4 linked regions of the Homo sapiens genome follow. The protein of the gene in region 2 purifies or fractionates together with the protein of the main gene of each other region. This does not show direct contact. Each region holds a gene or a part of one and is shown on either strand. Other genes may lie near its edges.

What was found.
Region 1: the proteins of ARPC2 (region 2) and PRKACB fractionate together in Homo sapiens (co-fractionation; one large-scale study listed by BioGRID). This does not show direct contact.
Region 3: the proteins of ARPC2 (region 2) and HCN1 purify together in Homo sapiens (co-immunoprecipitation; one large-scale study listed by IntAct). This does not show direct contact.
Region 4: the proteins of ARPC2 (region 2) and ARPIN purify together in Homo sapiens (co-immunoprecipitation; one study listed by IntAct). This does not show direct contact.

Annotation. Positions count from the first base shown.
Region 1 is NC_000001.11:84,234,417-84,239,369, reverse strand, and holds the end of PRKACB (cAMP-dependent protein kinase catalytic subunit beta), read right to left. Parts: intron 4,191-4,953; coding exon 4,065-4,190; 3' UTR 872-4,064; downstream 1-871. UniProt on the Homo sapiens protein: Mediates cAMP-dependent signaling triggered by receptor binding to GPCRs.
Region 2 is NC_000002.12:218,233,270-218,238,741, reverse strand, and holds part of ARPC2 (actin-related protein 2/3 complex subunit 2), read right to left. Parts: intron 4,391-5,472; coding exon 4,345-4,390; intron 79-4,344; coding exon 1-78. UniProt on the Homo sapiens protein: Actin-binding component of the Arp2/3 complex, a multiprotein complex that mediates actin polymerization upon stimulation by nucleation-promoting factor (NPF).
Region 3 is NC_000005.10:45,253,349-45,257,268, forward strand, and holds the end of HCN1 (potassium/sodium hyperpolarization-activated cyclic nucleotide-gated channel 1), read right to left. Parts: 3' UTR 1,600-3,920; downstream 1-1,599. UniProt on the Homo sapiens protein: Hyperpolarization-activated ion channel that are permeable to sodium and potassium ions. Displays lower selectivity for K(+) over Na(+) ions.
Region 4 is NC_000015.10:89,909,054-89,914,578, forward strand, and holds the start of ARPIN (arpin), read right to left. Parts: upstream 3,900-5,525; 5' UTR 3,783-3,899; coding exon 3,691-3,782; intron 3,635-3,690; exon of another isoform or gene 2,999-3,634; intron 1,767-2,998; coding exon 1,691-1,766; intron 1-1,690. Other genes in the region: ARPIN-AP3S2 (uncharacterized protein LOC100526783), read right to left, coding at 1,691-1,766, 3,691-3,782. UniProt on the Homo sapiens protein: Regulates actin polymerization by inhibiting the actin-nucleating activity of the Arp2/3 complex; the function is competitive with nucleation promoting factors.

The DNA of each region.
Region 1 (4,953 bases), on a different chromosome or scaffold from region 2:
AAACAATCACATGCTGAGGTACTAGTGGTTAGAATTTCAGTATGAATTTTGTTCACAGTTCACAATCCAGGTCATAACAACAGGCATAAAGGCTATTAAATAAGCATATGGAAAATCTTCAGGAAAGCTTAAATGAAAAGTACTTAACTTCACATCCAGTATTTGTGCACAAGAGAAAATTTACAGCTAAATAGATTTCAAATGATGATAGTTCTTCAGTAAAGACATACCTAGATTTTTGTAATTAGTTTTACAAGGAAATGAGAAAACTGCATTTATATTAAGCCCTGATAATGATAAAATGAAGCGAGCACTGGTATAAAAATAGTAAGCTCCATGTTATAAAATGCATAAATAGAAATGTTTGCAAGAACAATCATACAAAATGGCAAGCCATTAAAATAATTACCTAAAGAAATGATTATTTCTTGAGGTAAAAGACAACTATGGAAATACACACTAATTAACCTGTCTAAAATGAAAAGAGGTAATGTGAAGCTCAAAAACACTCCTGAAGAAAAAATTAGAAATTAATATTTCATTGTTACAATAGAAGGATGAGTGCTCTTGAAGAATCAAATCCTTTAAATATGAATATTTAGAACATTATGTTAGCAGTAATCTGAACCAATATGAGAAATGAGAAAGAAGTAGAAACACTTTTGAGAAACTATTAAATGAATCTAGCAGTTTCTTAGTAAACATCCAGTGTGAGTAGACTGGCGGATATATTCCTCCCCAATGTGCTCTGCTCCCACCACCCAGAAATCAACCCAAACACATAAAAACTAGGAATCTATAAGCATCTCTTGTATCAGCGGAAAATAAATCAGGAGATGAGGGCACCAAGTAGAATTCACGACTCAATCAATTGTCTTATCCATTGAAGGTACTTTAATTTTGCAGTTATTGATTAATTAAAAAACACAGTTGTTTTCAGCATTTCCTAGCTACAGTAGTGCATAGGAAATTCCATTCTAAACAAAGAAGTAATTAATGAAATAACAACACACCTTAACATTTTACATTGATAGGTTACAGTTTACAAGGTGCTTTCACATACATTATTTCATTTGATTCTTACAACAAGCAGAAAAAACAGTGGGAAAGATTTTTTTTTTCAGGCTTACAATGAGTATTTTCAGGCCAATGGGCAGTTAACACAAGAATATACCAAGAATGAGACAGCAATACCCATAAGCCACAATATCGTTTTTGGTAGGTTGACAGTTTGATTCAACTGGGTATTCAGCATCGGTGAGTGAGAAAGGAATTAGGACAGACACCAAGGCTCTTATGATATTCAAATAATTTTAAGAACACTGTCAGAGATAAGAAGAAAGATGCCCTAAAATATATTGCCTTATTGAGACTTACTTCAAAGCAATATACCCTTCAAAATATCAGATAAAAAGACAATCTTGTCATCGACTGTGAAAGTTAGGAGGAATCTTACAAACTGCCTAATCCAGTTCTTCCATTTTACAGACAAGAGAACTGAGGCTGAGATCATACTGATAGTTTTCCAGCCTGAAATTCAGATGTCTTGACTTTCAGTCTAGGGCTCCTTCTTACACAATGCCATCTCTTAATTATTTACTGAGCATAACATAATATCTTCTGTTTCAAATATGTAATTTTAGGTTAAATACTGATTTATGCTACTTACTTCTTATTCAAGTTTTTATCTTATTCTTGGCTAAATTGTGGCTGAAACTGGGAATGTTACATACTTTAAAAATATTCTAATTTAGTGTACTTGATTGGTCAGAAATTGACTCCCTTGACATATTTGCTCATGACAAGCTTGCTCACGGCCTTTAAATAGAGAGTAAAATGGAATGGCTGAATAGCCCTCAAAACCAACGTATGTCTAGGGATCATCTACCTAAGGTAGATTCTACAGCTGGGCACTAGTAATTTCATAGAAAAAAATATTTTTTAGAATTCATAGAAATCTTTTTGATTACTGAAAACTAAATTGTAATAATCAAATTGTCATCCCCATGACTTATTAAAATAATTTTACAATAATATACAACAAAGCTACCATAGAATTTGTAGTTTACATATAGAACACATTGGTCAGCATGTTCTTGGGTCTAAATGAAATACAAGAAAATTAAAATATTTTATACGAATGATGTTTTAAATTTATTAACATGACGATATGCCTTTGTTACACAAAACTTGCTAGAGCAGAGTATTTTATTTTTTTCTTGCACGTTTTAAATATAGATGGACCAGTGAAATCAATATCAGCATTTACATGACATTACCATGCAGAAACACTTGATAACCGAAAGACATATAGATTGGTAGAAAGAACATCTCAGACAGGTTTTTTTTATGTCTTCAAAGGTTTCACCAGGGTGTGGTACAGATGAAAAGAAGTGGTGTTAATGACCTACCTGCACCGATAATAAAGCAAATAGAATGATTATATACATTAAGATCAGCTTGATTAAAAATAAATTTTATATGCAGGTAAATTGATCATTAAAATGAACCCAGTTTAACTCTTCTCGTGTGTTGTTTTAAGGTAGGTCACTGAAACGCAGAGATAAAATCAGATGGGGAAAATTAAAAGCAAAGAAAAAAATAGCAAAACAAGTGGGTTAAGCCATGGATTCTCAACAAACACTGAACTAAATGTGCAAAAGTGCTTGAAATTTCCACCTGACAGCAATGTTGTTAAGTCAGTTGGCAAAAAAAAGTGTAGGAAAAAAACTAACCTCTCAAATACCAACATTGTATCTGCATGATCGATCAGACATTCTGTTTACTGAGAGAACAGAGGTTAGAAATTATGAAATATCTGAAAATATCATACCTCAAAATTAAAATACAATTGTGGCAGTTTTATACACTTTGTTCCCTTTCCTCATTGATGAGGCATGGGATGAAAGCAGAAGTTGCAGCAGTGCCCCTACCCTAGGCTCACAAATATAGTACACCACAATAATTAGCTGGAAACAACTTCTTTTTAACGGTTACAAAACAAAACAAATGTAAACCCTCATTTAAATATGAATACCTCTATATTGTTTCCAAAAATCAAGCCATTTTTGACTTTGCAAAGTATAAGTATTTATCTAAACCAATGTTCTTTTTAGTTTGCTTATTTTCCTTTAAAAAGTTTATGATGAGGACTATTAGAGAAAATTTAAAATTTGTCACTTTCATTAATCATGTTCTATTAAAATACTGGCTAAAATCCTTAAGGAACAGTTAAGGTTTAGAAAACTTAGAACTCTTCTCTAATACCTACAGAAATGCTGGTACCAAGTGAGAGAATCTGGGTGATGATCCATATCATTAGTTTTTCCTGCTGAATGAGACACGTTTGTCACACTACACAGGCTGGTCACTTCATTACTCAAGGAGAGGAGGATATAAAAGGAGGGAAAGGGAACTAGAACCTCTGATCTACAGCCTTCCAAATTTCTGGGTCTAGCTGTACTGTATTAGTCTACCAAAATTTATTGCCAGAATAGTGAATTCCAAGAAAGTTAGTCTTAATTTGTATAAATTTCCTTGGTGATAAGACAGTCTATCTTCAAAAATTACCAAGAGTTTTGGCAAAACCAAGTCTGAGCTACTCAAAGAAATAATAATTATTAGAAAGTTTATCTTCAAGCCATTGACCAACAACAATATTGGCAATAACTACTGAAAGCAACACTTATCCTTCCCTTCAAATATCACGTAGCCATAACACTGCCCATCTGAAACACCAACAAAATAAAATGGAGCACTGTTTAGAGAAAACCAATGAAATTGGAAAAGGAAGAAATGGATATAGGAGAGGAGAAAGACAACCCAAAGAGAAGTAAGAAAGTGGTCTAGTACTGTGTTATGGCACAGACAATGCTTGCTTAGCGGTGCCTTGTTACATAGGTGGATGCAGAGTGCGCACACGGGATGATGGCAATAAAGACCTCACTCAGTCGTTGGAATGAAGGAACTAGGTAACTGCTTCAACAAGGACGGTCTCAGCTCTACCTTATCTCTCAACAGAGTGCAAACACTGAGTGTGAGCTCAGATGTCATCTTGTTCCTCTTTAAAATTCACCAAATTCTTTTGCACATTTTTCTGTTATAGAGACACGGATATCTTCTTCTTCATAGTCATCAAAGTTGCTGGTATCTCCAGAGCCTCTAAACTTTGGTATGAATGGAGCTTCAACCTATAATTGAGAGGGAGAGAAAAATAAGAAAAAGGAAAAAAAAATTCCTGAGAGTTTCCAAACACCAAGAAAAATAAATTCCCACTGTTATTACACGGTGAAATCCTTAGATGCCATTAGGTTCCTAAAATATAATAGTGCTAGAAGAAGCAGCAAGCAGTAGGTTAGCTATTAACCTCAACATTTTGATTCAAGGAAGTATGCAGGTCAACAAAATACTTAAGAAATTTCTGGGATAAGAGGAGAAGCCAAGATGGCCGAATAGGAACAGGTACGGTCTACAGCTCCCAGCGTGAGGGACACAGAAGACGGGTGATTTCTGCATTTCCATCTGAGGTACCAGGTTCATCTCACTAGGGAGTGCCAGACAGTGGGCGCAGGTCAGTGGGTGCACGCACCGTGTGCGAGCCGAAGCAGGGCAAGGCATTGCCTCACTCAGGAAGCGCAAGGGGTCAGGGAGTTCCCTTTCCTAGTCAAAGAAAGGGGTGACAGACGGCACCTGGAAAATCAGGTCACTCCCACCCGAATACTGCGCTTTTCCCACGGGCTTAAAAAACGGCGCACCAGGAGATTATATCCTGCACCTGGCTTGGAGGGACCTACGCCCACGGAGTCTCGCTGATTGCTAGCACAGCAGTCTGAGATCAAACTGCAAGGTGGCAGTGAGGCTGGGGGAGGGGCGCCCGCCATTGCCCAGGCTTGCTTAGGTAAACAAAGCAGCTGGGAAGCTCGAACTGGGTGGAGCCCACCACAGCTCAAGGAG
Region 2 (5,472 bases):
ACATGCCAGCTTGATGCACAATGGAATCCTTGGATGCCGGAAGATTTTCAAGGTCATATAGCAAAGAGACATTGTATCCTGGAGGGAAAGAAAAAACAAGAAACAAAAAACAACCCAGCAGTTACATTTAAAAAAAAAAAAAAAAAAAAAAGCAGCATACTATCTATACCAAGTAAACAGAGACTAGAGGCAACTAAAAAAATCTTTTTTCAGGTTCTATTGACATTTTGTCTCATTATCTGTACTTTTAACCTGGGTAGAATATAGTCTATTTCCATCTATCTCACAGGGCAAAATGAGGTGAAATAAAATCTTAATTTTTATAAGATTCTTGTAAATATATATAATTAATGTTAATCAAAAATTTGAATCAGTATCAAAGATGACTAATTACAAATATGTAATGGGAGAAAGTCAGAACCTGGGAACTCTGATTGGAAATGTACCCTTCTAGACACAGTTGTAAAGGAGCCACATATATTTCTCTGATAGTTTAATGTGCCAAGTATCAGTATGGCCAGCAAATGGGTAGCTTTGTGATAATAAGATAAACCCTTCTACGTGCCACTGCAAACTCTTTATGAGGTGGCAGGGTAGAAAAACCAACTACCTGTTCATACATATACCTCCCCAATAGCTTTTATTGGTATATATTGTACAATTTTTAAAACATTTTACTTCATTTGATCTCCATAACCACCTTTGAAGTCTGCAGGCTAGATAAGGTTACTGTTTTGCAGAGGGAAAAGGAGATTCAAAGAAGTGACGTGACTTGCCAAATGCAGCATGACACATAAGTGTAGGGCACTCTATTTTGAGTCGAACAGAACTGGGTCCAAATCCTAGTCTTGTCATTTTGTGACCTTAAAAAAACTGCTGGGTGTGGTGGCTCACACCTGTAATCCCAGCATTTTGGGAGGCCAAGGTGGGCAGATCACCTGAGGTCAGGAGTTTTGAGAGCAGTCTGGCCAACATGGCAAAACCCTGTCTCTACTAAAATCACAAATATTAGCCAGGCATGGTGGCGGGCGCCTGTAATCCTAGCTACTTGGGAGGCTGAGGCAGGAGAATTGCTTGAACCCAGGAGGTGGAGGTTACAGCGAGCTGATATTGCACCACTGCACAACAGAGCGAGACTCCAGCTCCAAAAAAAAAAAACAAAAACAAAAAAAATTGCCTGACTTGTTAATTTCCTCATCTGTTAAAAAAAAAAAAAAATTGGTGGTGGGGGGCAGGTAGGGTGGTCTGGGCACAGTGGCTCAAGCCTGTATTCCCAGCACTTTGGGAGGCCAAGGTGGGTGGATCACCTGAGGTCAGGAGTTCGAGACCTGCCTGGCCAATATGGCAAAACCCCGTCTCTAATAAAAATACAAAATTAGCTGGGTGTGGTGGTACACGCCTGTGGTCCCAGGTACTCCGGAGGCTGAGGCAGGAGAATTGCTTGAACCCGGGAGGTGGAGGTTGTAATGAGCTGAGATCGCGCCACGGCACTCCAGCCTGAGCAACAAGAGTGAAATTCTGTCTCAAAAAAAAAGAAAAAAAGAAAAAGGAGCAGGGCAGGGGGTGCGGAGATAGGGGAGAATGTTGTGAGCATTAAAAGAATGTTCAATACTTAAAGTGTGTGGAACATGACAGGTCATCAATACGGGTGCAGAACATGGACTGAAACCATTGGATGACCTGCCTTTTTACAGCATGTCCACTATGAATTCCCAGAAGCCGGCTGGAACACTTGATTATAGAATCAAATGATTAATAAGTGTCAAACTGCCTAGAGATGTTTTTGCAAGAATATTTCTACATCACTGAGGATCATTTTATATTCTAGGCAACTGACGGGAATAACTTCACCAGAACTGTATGGCTTTCACACTTCTAAGTATCTGAAACCTCATTACTATTTCATTTTTTCCCAAAAGCATTCCTGAGATCTGTATTTTTTTTTTTTTGAGATGGAGTTTTACTCTTATTGCCCAGGCTGGAGTGCAATGGCATGATCTCGGCTCACCACAACATCCGCCTCCCAGGTTCAAGCGATTCTCCTGCCTCAGCCTCCTAGGCAGCTGGGATTACAGGCATGCGCCACCAGGCCTGGCTAATTTTGTACTTTTAGTAGAGACGGGGTTTCTCCATGTTGGTCATGCTGGTCTTGAACTCCTGAATGCAGGTGATCCGCCCGCCCTGGCCTCCGATAGTGCTGGGATTACAGGCATAAGCCACCGCGCCCGGCTGAGGTCTGTGTTTTTTGTTGAGCATGGGCTCTTCGGGAGGATGGGCTAAATCTTTGCTCTAGATAATGCTTAGCACATTTTATTTAATACTGGAGAGGCACTCCAGTATTAAATAATATCAATCATCATTCTATTTTGGGTACTTGAAAACCAAATAAGCACACAGATTACAAGGTTAGATTAAAAAAGAAAAGATTTAGAGCTGAGGTTTGCTAGTTTTAGGAAGCCAAATAAGAGCAAATAAAACTATAGCTAAGGTAAAGTCTGTCTTTAAGTAAGGCTTCTAACATGATGAACAGAATATACTGAGGATGAAGAGAAGTAAAAATCTAGTATAACTTGCTGAGTTTTCCAAACGTGCCTAGATAAACCCATTAAAAAAGAGGAGGAGAGACTCTACGGTCTTTTTTTTTTTTTTCTCGAGACTGAATCTTGCTCTGTCGCCTAGGCTAGAGGGCAGTGGCGCAATCTCAGCTCACTGCAACCTCTGCCTCCTGGGTTCAAGCGATTCTCGTGCTTCAGCCACCTGAGTACCTGGTATTACAGGTGGCTGCCACCATGCCTGGCTAATTTCTGTATTTTTTATAGAGACAGGTATCTCATTATGCTGCCCAGGCTGGTCCTGAACTTCTGAGCTCAAGCAATTCACTCACCTTGGCCTCCCCAAAGTGCTGGGATTACAGGTGTGAGCCACTGCACCTGGTTGAGACACTACTTTCACACACTTTTACATTTCACACTTCTATGAAGACAGGGTCTGCAATCTGGCAATGTCTATGATTTAGTGGGAGGTAGAAGGAGGCCCAGGGACAGAAACATAAACTTTCCATGTCAGGATGTTGGCTGTGACAAGCATGCCCAAGACTTTGGACATGATTTTTCTGTTCTAGATCTGTTTGTTTCTTTCTTTTAATACCTTGATTTTGCCAAAAGCCTACAGTGTTATCTTGGCTTTTATTTCTGTGACACATTCATCCCGCCAATTTGGAGATTAAAAAAAAAAAAGGTGCTGGGTATGGTGGCTCATGCCTGTGATCCCAACTCTCTGGGAGGCGGAGGCTGAGGTGGGTAGATTGCTCAAGGCTAGGAGTTTGAGACCTCCTTACTCTGTTTTGGCAGTATGGGCAGCAGACAGTGAGACTCTGTTTCTACAAAATATTAAAAAAATTAATTGGGTATGGTGGCATGTGCCTGTAGTTCCCAGCTACCGGAGAGGCTAAAGCGGGAGGATTGCTTGAGCCCAAGATTTGGAGGAGGCTGCAGTGAGCTATGACTGTACCACTGCATTCCAGCCTGGGCAACAGAATGAGACTGTCTGAAAAAATAGGTGAGGTGATGAAATAAGCTAGCACAAGTAACTGCTGTTAAGAGTGACAGAGAACTTCCTTCTTAGAAGACTTTTCTAATCAAGGTACCAAAGTTGTAATAGTTGAGTAAAAAATATTATGTTCCAATGGTCTTACTACCTGGTTCTCACTTTGGGGTCCTGCTAAATGCCTCAGAATTTGAGACATGCCACTGAATCACAGGGTAAAAAGGCTGTTCAGTTTTTCCACTTTAAACCTCCTTTTTAAAGCAGTATAACATAGCTGTTCTATTCAAGGATGACACGGTGCCTTTCAATTCCTCTGGCCATGAATGTTGAGACAACCTATTAGAAGACTGGATTAAGAAAGGGTCTGATTTTTATTACTTGAAATCACAAGAATAGTGTGGTGAATATTCCTCTTCTTTCTCCAAATATGTAGTATGCAGAATTACTAAGGGCCGAGGGTGGGAATCAATGTTTGCTCATTCTTTTCAAAGCCATTTTAATCACCATGAACAAACAAATGTGGCCCTCTGGCTGAAAGATTAAGTAAGAGTCATGTGGCCCCATCAAGTAAATGTTAAAAATGTCACACATCAATTTTGTACCTCTACTGTGTTCCATATTGGACAAAGCAAAGCCCCTTAAAAGCTATTTTTATGGACGGAGTTGAAATTAGGAATGGGCTCATGCAGAAATATTTGTAATAATATTTAAACGAAATCCTTTGGGTAAAAAAAGCATAATATAAAAAGGACACCTCTCTTCCCATGTCATTCCATAGTTGCTCACATGACTACATACCTGATTCTGGATTTACCAAGAAACTCCCGTACACCCTCTTTAATAACTAGAAAATAAAAACAAAACAAAACCAAATACGTTAATCCAAAGGCCATGATAATTTCATTATTTTTAAAGTACTGCACTTGCCAAGCTCTTCCTAAGTTGGCATTCTTCCTAACTTTCATTTGGTGGATGGGAAAGTAGAGACAGAGGGGAAGTGGATTTAGTCACCAAACAAGTCACAAAACTGAGATGAGTATCTTTTTATGCCTGGGACAGAGTGCAATGGCGCGATCTCGGCTCACCACAACCTCCGCCTCCTGGGTTCAAGTGATTCTCCTGCCTGAGCCTCCCAAGTAGCTGGGATTATAGGCATGCGCCACCATGCCCGGCTAATTTTTTTTTGTATTTTTAGTTGAGATGGGGTTTCTCCATGTTGGTCAGGCTGATCTTGAACTACTGACCTTGGATGATCCACCCGCCTCGTCCTCCCAAAGTGCTGGGATTATAGGCATGAGCCACTATGCCTGGCCGAGAATCTTTAATCAAAGCTCATCCTTTTTTAGGACTTGACTACACCCTTAATATGTTCTCTGTTCTCCTCCAGATCCTACATTGTACTTAATCATGTTTTGTTTTCAAGAGAGCAAAAGGATGCCAAATTCCAAGTGAGAGAACAGATTGTTAGTTATCAACCTAAGTACAGACTGAGCCACTAACCCAGGTGAATAAAGAGAAAAAACCAGGACTCTCGGGAACTGATCTGTTTGTCTGCTGATCTTGTATGCTTTAAAATTACTCAGTGCATAGCCAGCTCTTAAGGCAAAGGACAGTCAATAATGAAATCTTAGCTAGCTATTAATACTGGTGTCCAGAAGGTTGTATACTCTCCATGTCTTTCCCCCCAAACCAGAACCTACTGCTGGCTACTTTCCAGGTTTTTGAATTAAATGAAAACAACAACAAAAAAAACCCAAAAAACCAAGAACCCCTTTTATACCTTCTGCTATGGTTTGAATGTCCTTTCGAAAACTCATGTTAAAAATTATGATTTTTTTTTTTTGAGACGGAGTCTTACTCTGTTGTCCAGGCTGGAATGCAGTGGTGCAATCTCAGCTCACTGCAACCTCCATCTCCTGGGTTCAA
Region 3 (3,920 bases), on a different chromosome or scaffold from region 2:
TAAATAAGCTATGTAAAAGACAAGGCTCTCTGTGTGTAACCAAATGCATACGTGTTTGTGTGTGTGTGTGTGTGTATGTGGGCATGTGTTTATACTTTATCATTATCAAGTTTACAAACGACAAGATGACTATTGCACTCAATTGCAGATTCTAATTGTTCAAAAGATGTGATTATAATAATGTTTAATACAGCATGTCATAGATGCTATAGTAAGACATGCATGACATCCAGCATGTCATACATTATGTCCTACTTGGACCTAAACTTCTCTCGCACTAGGCTTCAGGACAAATTTTACTGTCATGTGATATATGTTAAGAAGTAGGCTCATGATACAACACTCTCTTTTCATGGAGAAGCTTGCTGGGGCTGAGGTGCTAGTTGAGGATACTGGCTTCCTGATATTTTACCATTTACAGGACAGAGAGGAAAAACCAGCCTCATCAGTAATCAGATTACTTGGCACCAAGAAAACTGGATATAGGGTGTCAGCTGTTCACAGAAGTCATCTAGAAATATTATCTGCCAAACACCTGGAGATCATGGTTTAGGAGGAATGTCAATGGGTGGAAGCCTGCTTCTTCAGTGAAGTTGGAATTGCATGCACAGACCCTTCCACTGGGAAGGTGTGAGAGGTCTGTCCCACCTAAGTTATGGCCCAGATAGCCTGGGGTGACTTAGAAAATTCTGCTCATTGCTCTTAGAATGTTTAATGGGGGCCAAGAACTGGAATAAATTCTTTGTAAAATTTAGCTCATTTAATCTTCACAACCACCCTGTAAAGTAGAAACTATTCCAATCTCCATTTTCCGGTCATGAAAGCAGATGTAATATTGAGAGGTGAAGCCAGCTGGACTTCCTGGGTCGAGTGGGGACTTGGAGAACTTTTCTGTCTTACAAGAGGATTGTAAAATGCACCAATCAGCACTCTGTAGCTAGGATTGTAAAACGCACCAATCAGCGTTCTGTAGCTAAGATTGTAAAACGCACCAATCAGCATTCTGCAGCTAGCAAGAGGTTTGTAAAATGCACCAATTAGCACTCTGTAGCTAGGAATGTAAAACACACCAATCAGTGCTCTGTAGTTAGCAAGAGGATTGTAAAATGCACCAAACTGCGCTCTGTAAAATGCACCAATCAGTGCTCTGTAAAATGCACCAATCAGCAGGAGTCTAAAAGTAGCCAATCGCAGGGAGGATTGAAAAAAGGCACTCTGATAGGACAAAAATGGAACATGGGAGGGGACAAATAAGGGAATAAAAGCTGGCCACCCCCAAGCCAGCAGAGGCATCCCACTGGGGTTTGCTTCCACCTGTGGAAGCTTTGTTTTCACTCTTACTGCTCCTTACTCTTTGGGTCTGTGCCATTTTTAAGAGTTGTAACACCGCAAAGGTCCGTGGCTCCATTCTTGAAGTCAGTGAGACCATGAACCCACTGGAAGGAACCAACTCCGGACACAATATGACTATATAATTCTACCATGGGTAGAATAAGCAAGTAGAGCAAGACATAAGCAGTAGAGCCAGTTTTTGTAGTCAGGCTTTCTAAACACTGCAGGTGTATAGATATAGCTGATGAAGAGAAGCTCTTTGCAAAATATTGACCACATTCATTTATTTTTATAATGTCAATGTATTATTGATAGCATTAAAAATGTTACAGAAGGCAATGGACACATTGTACTGATGTGATATTAAGAAACATTGCTAGCTATGGCACCAAAATTTATGTGACATAAGGAAATTATAATACCTAACACATATTAGTTTTCTCTTCCCTGGTTCTAACTAGCAAGTGCCAGGAGGCAGGCTGGGTTAGACAGCGTGACCAAGAGTAAACTTTGGATGGTCCAGGATAAAATTATAACATAGGTGGTTTGTCGTTGCTTGTGTTTATTTAATGTTCTCTCGCTTTCCTTGTCTAGCCAAGATCCCATGCTATGTTGACTTGTCATCTCCAGAAATGTCTTCACACTTGGAAGTTCCCTTAAAAAGCCCTTAAAATTTACCTCCTCTAGGACTTACTAGTTCCAATTTTTTCAATATTAATACACATATGAATCATCTGGGGATCTTGCCCAAAAGCGGACTTCTGTAGGTACAGGGTAAGGCCAAGGACTCTGCACTTCTTGTAATTATACTTCTGGGTGATACTGACGCTGCAGTTCCATGCACCACACTTTCCACAGTGAGGCACGCAAGAACATTTAGAACTGCACATTTTAAACAGAATTGTAATATGTTAGGTTGGTAATAGATGTTAGAAGAGTTAGGCAAACAAGATTTAATTTTGAATGCTTGGAAACTAAGACCTTGAACAAATATGAGAAAGAAATGAGAATACATTTGGAAAACTCTTTTTGAATCTTTCAAATTTCTTTGGGTTATGTTCTTTCTTCCTTCAAAAGTAAATCTTTCCTTTCTCAGGAGTTTTCCTCACAAATTTAACAGGAAATAAAAACCTTTCAAGAAAGTCTCTTTGCCTCTACACATCTGAATATTCTCTGTAGAAAACGATGCAACCTGTTTTTTTGCAAAATTCCGTTATTTAAAAAAAAAAGTCTGAATAACTCTACGTTACCTGAATTCAATTATATAATCTATTGGAAACATAAAGTGGTCCTCTTTTGAAGAATTATTATATTTACTAATTTATTCAGATTTCTTCAATTGAATGAATCAATAGTATTCTCTGCTCATATGGTATTACTGAAACAACTACATAGAAAAAAATAGCAGGGCCGGGTGCGGTGGCTCAGGCCTGTAATCCTAGCACTTCTGGAGGGTGAGGCGGGCGGATCACTTGAGGTTAGGGGTTCGAGACCGGCCTGGCCAACATGGTAAAACCCTGTCTCTACTAAAAATTACAAAAATTTAGCTAGCCATGGTGGCGGGCACCTGTAATCCCAGCTACTCTGGAGGCTGATGCAGGAGAATTGCTTAAACCTGGGAGGCTGATGTTGCAGTGGGCCAAGATCCTGCCATTGCACTCCCACCTGGGTGACAGAGCCAGACTCCATCTTAAAAAAAAAAAAAAAAAAAGATGTTTCCCTTTGGGAGTAAATGGCCATTGATGTTACATTAGAAATATAATAGCTCCAAAGAATGTTCACCTTTGCCACTCTTTGGAGCGTGTGTGATATCTCCAATAGAAATTAAAGAACTGGCTTCACTTTTTTGTTTGTTTGGGTTTTTCTTGAGAAAGGGTTTTGCTCTGTCCCCCAAGCTGGAGTGCAGTGGAACGAACAGGGCTCACTGCAGCCTTGACCTCCTAAGTTCAAGCGATCCTCCTGCCTTAACTTTCTGAGTAACTAGGACTACAGGAATACACCACCTATAGTCGGGTTTTCTAAACACTGCAGGTATGTAAGTATATACTGGTCAATTAAAAAAATTTTTTTTCCTTGTAGAGACCAGGTCTTGACATGCTGCCCTGGTTGGTCTCCAATTCCTGGCCTCAAGCATTCCTCCCACTTTGGCCTCCCAAAGTGCTAGGATTACAGGCATGAGCCACCACGCCTGGCCTGAGAACTTGCTTTATTTTAGCCAAAATTATTTTATCACTTCTTTCCCTTCTCACAGGTTCTAGCTCTTATCTTCTTGTACCCCTTCCCTGCCGCAATATATTATCTTACGCAAAGCAAGTAAACTTTCAGTTTCCTATTCCCATTACTCTATTTAGCAAACCTAGGACCTTCCTTAGGACCCAGCATCCTCACAAGGCAGGGTGGGGTTGTAAATAGCCCCCAGTTTTTGCTGTGTCATAAATTATTTTATTCCTTGTTACATTAGCAAAACAGACATTTCAATGTGAATCCTCCCCGTTGATAAGCTTAAATTAAGAATATAAAGTACAACACTGTAAAACCTTTGCCCTGATGTTAAAAGCCTTTCAGAAGGTTTTTGAAATCCCTATTTC
Region 4 (5,525 bases), on a different chromosome or scaffold from region 2:
GGGCGCTGCCAAGGTGCAATGGAAAGGGCACTGAAAAGGAGCCCTGGGTGAGGGCAGCCACTCTGCCCCTTCCAACAGCCTGGGACAAACCACTCAGTTTCCCCATCACATGGGGATAACGTGATGTCTGTGTTTAAGAATATTATGAGGGTTCAATGAGATAACAGAGGGGCAAGCACAGTGCCAAGCGTGAACTGTGCTATAAGTGCTGTTTGCCAGTTGTTCAAGGCAGGTGGGTGAAATGCTCCCAGGGCCTGAAGAATAGGAGGCCACATCCTGGTGGAATCAAGAAAGATGAAGTCTTGGAGGGTAGGGAGGTCTGCCAACTGTGGGAATAAGAAGCTGTAGGAATAATATTAAAAGCCTGGGACAGTATAGGAAATAAAAGCCAAGAGGCCCTTGTGCATGTTTGAGCCACGCAGGGCACCTGGAGGCCTTCTGGGAGCCCAGGCTGGGAAAGCAAGTGGGCTTGGTTCAGGACAGGTCTTGAGTTGGCATTCGGAGTTTGGATTTTATTTGATGGACAAGGAATCCTGAAAGGTTTCTGAGCAGCAGTGAGACCCTCAGAGATGTATTTCTGGAAAGACATTTGTCCTATTGGCAGCAGGGCAGGGATGAGTTCTGGGGACAGCCAGAAGGCAGGGGGACAGGTGCAAGGTTTTATCAGGACAGGCTGAGGGCCCATCTCAGGTAAGCAGCCATGGAAAGAGGAAGGGAAGGCAAGGGAGGGGGAGGAATGGGCAAGGGCCCAATGCCAGCAGGGCCTGGCATTGCTTACCTGGGGAGGAGACAGTGAGGGTTCCCAGCCCGGTGGCTGGGAGGGCAACTGCACCATCACCAGGAATGGAACTCAGAGGAGGCAAGTTTTAAGAGGGGCTAGGAGAAGGCCCTGCCTGACGGCAGATGAGGCAAGCAAGCCCCACATCAGCATGGAGACACTGCTGGGCTCTCCTGGGCAGGCTAGCTAGGGGCTCTGATGGGTGTTCCCACCTGCCCACTGTGTGCTAAGGAGGGGAGGGTGCAGCAAAATACCGCCTGACATGAAAATAGTGCTGAGCTGTTCTCATGGGGTACAGGAGGGACATGCAGGCTCCATGTAGCACCAGGCCTCTGGCCCTACTGGAGGGGGCATTTTTAGAGACCAAGCTCAGTTATAGAGATCAAGGAGATAAGGTGGTCAGCACATCTAGGTGGGGCTATTTGAAGGGGGAGTGGAAAGTCGGAACTAGCGCTCCGAAAAAAGACACAGGCTAGTACTGGATGGTAAATGCCAGGTGTACCCACAGACACCTGAGATGGGGTGGTGATACAGGACATGACCCCAGGAGGCTGAGAGGGCAAAGGCAGCCAGGACATCAACATGGGAACTGAAGCCCCAGACACTGTCAGAGTTTACATTCAGGCAAGACTGGGGTTTAGGGCCTGGTCTGCCTTCTCAGCCATGACCCAGGCTCTTCTGGCAAGAACACAGGCCCTCCCACCTGTCTGCTGCTCAACACAGCCTTAAACTATTCTTCCAGCTGGTGGTCCCATTTGGCTATAAATCTCCTGACCTACTTCCCACTTGCTTTCTAAGCCCATCAAGAATCCCAACTCATGGCACTGGAAGGACCCAGCACAAGGAGATGCCACAGTGGATGATGACCGTGAAGTCAGTGCCCTCTAGCTAGCACCGAGGAAGCATCCTCACCTTCCTGCCATGAGTGTCCAAGATGCTGTGCCGAGATACATCGATCAGTTCTCCCTCCAGCAGGACACCATTTCCCCTGGGGATGAAAGGGAAAGAAAGGATAGCCAGTTTTGTCAGTCCTCAGCAAATCTCACCCGTGTCTCCTATTTACCCAGCCCTGAGAAGGCTGGGTACTGAGCAGCTCCTTTCCCCGTGCTTCCGACATAGGGATCTCCAAAGGGTCCCAAAGGCTGGGGCATTGCCCAGATGCCAGGAGGAACCTTGTCAGGCTGCCCTAAGATCAAGCTATGGCCCCCTCCTACAAGGCCACTGGGAGTTACTGGAACCAGAGCCTCAGTCTTATCTACAAAATGGGGAGGAAAACAGCTGCCTCACTCTGCTCCTCTGATGTTGACACAAGATCATGTGTGTGAAGGTGTTTTGTAAGCTATTAAGTGATTACTAAATACAAAAGATTTTACTTTTTTATTGGTCCAAATGTGAGGGTAGGTATCTAAGCTGCAATAAACTATTTTCCCTTTCCACCTGTTTTTAAACACTCTCATATTCCTTTTCTCATTCATATCCAGGTGGTCATTAACCCGAGGAAATGGTTATTACTGAGAGGTGAAGAAACCAAAACTCAGAAGTCTGAGACTAGTCCAAGATCACACGGTCCTTCACTGAGGGGAAGTGGACCCCTGGCTTCTCGACTCTGGTTTTCATAAAAGCAGAACGTGGAGGCTTCCTTTTTTGCATCCACAGAAATGGAGAAGCATGGGGACAGCTGAAGATGACAGTGGAATAGGGATGGGAGTGGGAAGTGAAAACTCTACCTAGCTGGTCTCTATCCAATTCTTCCCCACCCCCCACAATTATTTTTCTAAATATTTAACTGACAAAAGACTGTATATATTCAAGGTGCACAACGTGATGATTTAAGTACACACTATGTAATGATTACCACAGATTAATGAACACACCCACCAGACCCCATGCTGTACATTAGGTCCCCAGAAATTGTTTATTCTATAACTGAAAGTTTGTACCTTTGATCATTACCCCATCCCCATCCACTATCCCCTGGCAATCACTGTTCACTGTTCTACTGTTTCTTTTCTTTTGACACAGTCTTGCTCCATCGCCCAGGATGGAGTGCAGTGGCACAATCTCGGCTCACTGCAACCTCCACCTCCCAGGTTCAAGCGATTCTCATGCCTCAGCCTCCCAAATAGCTGGGATTACAGGTATCTGCCACCACGCCCGACTAATTTTTGTATTTTTAGTACAGACAGGGTTTCACCATTAGGCTGGTCTCAAACTCCTAACCTCAAGTGATCCACCCGCCTCGGCCTCCCAAAGTGCTGGGATTACAGGCGTGAACCACAGCGCCTGGTCTGTTCTGCCGTTTCTATGGTTCAACGCTTTTATAGGTTCCATATACGAGATCACACAGTATTTGTCTTTCTGTATCTGGCTTATTTCACTTAGCACAATTCTTCAGCGCAGTTGTAAATGGAATGGTCCCTTCGGCCTCATAACCCTGTGACGACAGGGCCTGGCCCTCCAAATCCTCCTCACCCAGGCAGGCCCTGCTCTGGACCAGCCCGCCCGCTGTTCCCGCCACAGCACGGCCACTGTCCCTTCTGGGGCAGGGCATGAGTCTGTGCAAAAGCAGCGCGGCAAGTAGCTGGAGTTTATAGTTACGCGGGTGGGGTGGGGCCGGAGGTCGGCGTGAGGCGAAGCCCAGCCTTCGGAGACCTGTCTGGGGGTCGGGACCCTCTCTCGAGGGCAGGCGGACAGGCGGGGAGCTTTAAGCCGATCTGTGTCATGGGGTCGCTGGGCGGGCGCGGCGGCAGGGGCGCCGGGAGCGGCGGACTGGAGGGGCGGACTGAAGGCGGAGAGGCGGCTTTGGCAACCCCAGTTTTCCCCCACCCGCATCCCACCCCCCCACCCGATCCTGTTGCGGGGTTCGAGCCGGGGCAGGGGAGGCCGACCCGAGGCCGTGAGCCCAGGCCTACCCCTGGTGGGCGGCGGGGTCCCAGGCCCCTGGCAGCCGGACGCTCTGCACCGCCTTGTTCCGGAGCGCGCCGTCGTGGTAGATGCGGCTCATTCTCCCGACCGCCCGGGCACCCCGGCACAGAGCCGGCGCACTGGGCTGGGGGCGCGGCGCGGGAAGTGCTGCAGGACGCGCGGGGACCCGCGATTCCCAGCCGGCGGATCCGGGAATGGCGCGGCCCGGCCCTCAGGCGTTCCTCGGCGGGATTTAAAGGGACCGAGCTCCATTCCTGCACGCCAGGCCGCGCGCGGCAGGAGTTGGGCTTCCGGGAGGACCCTGGCTGGGGGCTTAGCACAGTGGGGCAGAAAGGCCATGCTTTTCTCTTGTCTCTCTCTCTTCCTCATTCCTAGAGGAAGATCCCTGCCCCAGCACACGCACAAAAGGGAAATTGAGGCCCCAAGATCCTATTATAGAAGATCCTTTGTAGGATCAGCCCGGGAAGGATGGGTTTCTGGGAAGCAGGAATGGAGAACAGCCACTGGGGAGGATTGGGTGGTCAGCTTAGAAGCTGTCCATTATGCCCCGCCCGCGGCCCTACAATGGCTGAGTCAGGTATCCCAGGGATCTGTGACGAGGGAGCTGGGGCATGGGTGTCGGACCAAAGACGCCTAAGTTTGAATCCCAGCTGTGAGCTTGGGCAAGCTCCTCAACCTCTCTGAGCCCATGCTTCTTCGTCTGTAAAATGGGGTCAGTATCAGGGGGATTGTAAAGTTTAATGAGCTCACCCTTTCTACAACATAGCATTGCCCTCCCTCCTTCTTCCTGCACAGCTCCTGAACTCCTCCCTGGCCCCACAATGCCCTTTGCCCAAGTATGTCATAGTCCGCAGGTGCATTTTCCAAGCCTGGTACAGAAGATTCTTCTGACCCTGGGATTGTTGAGGAATCTTTGTTCTTTTGTTTGGCTTCTTCGTGCCAGGCCTCGGGGCAGGTGGGCCCATTCAGGGAGGCCAGGTGTACCCCGGGAGAGGGGGCGGCATTTAAAGGGGGTGGTGGCCAGGCAGGTGCCTAGGAGTCTAGCATGAGCTGTCAATGTTGGAAGAAGAAAGCACCCTCTCCCTTCCCTGCTACACACACACACACACACACACACACACACACACACACACAGACAATGACTTTCTTGGGTCCTAGGCACTTTTGTTTTCAAAGGACCCTTTCTCCATTAAAAATTTTTTAAAAAATTATTATCTTACCACTGGGTTGGCATAAAGATGAATATATGAATTATATATATATATATATATTTTTTTTTTTTTTTTTTTGAGACAGTCTTCCTATGTTGCCCAGGCTGGAGTGCAGTGGTGAATCTTGGCTCACTGTAACCTCTGCCTCCCAGGTTCTAGTGATTCTCCTGCCTCAGCCTCCTGAGTAGCTGGGATTACAGGCACTCACCACCACACCCGACTAATTTTTGTATTTTTAGTAGAGATGGGGTTTCACCATGTTGGCCAGGCTGGTCTCAAGCTCCTGACTTCATGTCACCACCTGCCTCTGCCTCCCAAAGTGCTAGGATTACAGGCCTGAGCCACTGCTCCCAGTCTAAAGTGTTTTCTTCAACCTAAACATATATTTTTTTTTCTGCATCCAATCATCCATTACTAAACATATTTTTAGGAAGAAAGAGCACCTGTAGTCCCAGCTACTCAGGAGGCTGAAGTGGGAGGATCACTTGAGCCCAGGAGTTTGAGTCCAGCCTAGGCAACATAGCGAAACCCTGTCTATTAAAAAAAATTAATGAAATTAAATTTAAATTTTAAAAGAATAAAAACATTTTGTGGACCGCTAAAAGTATGAT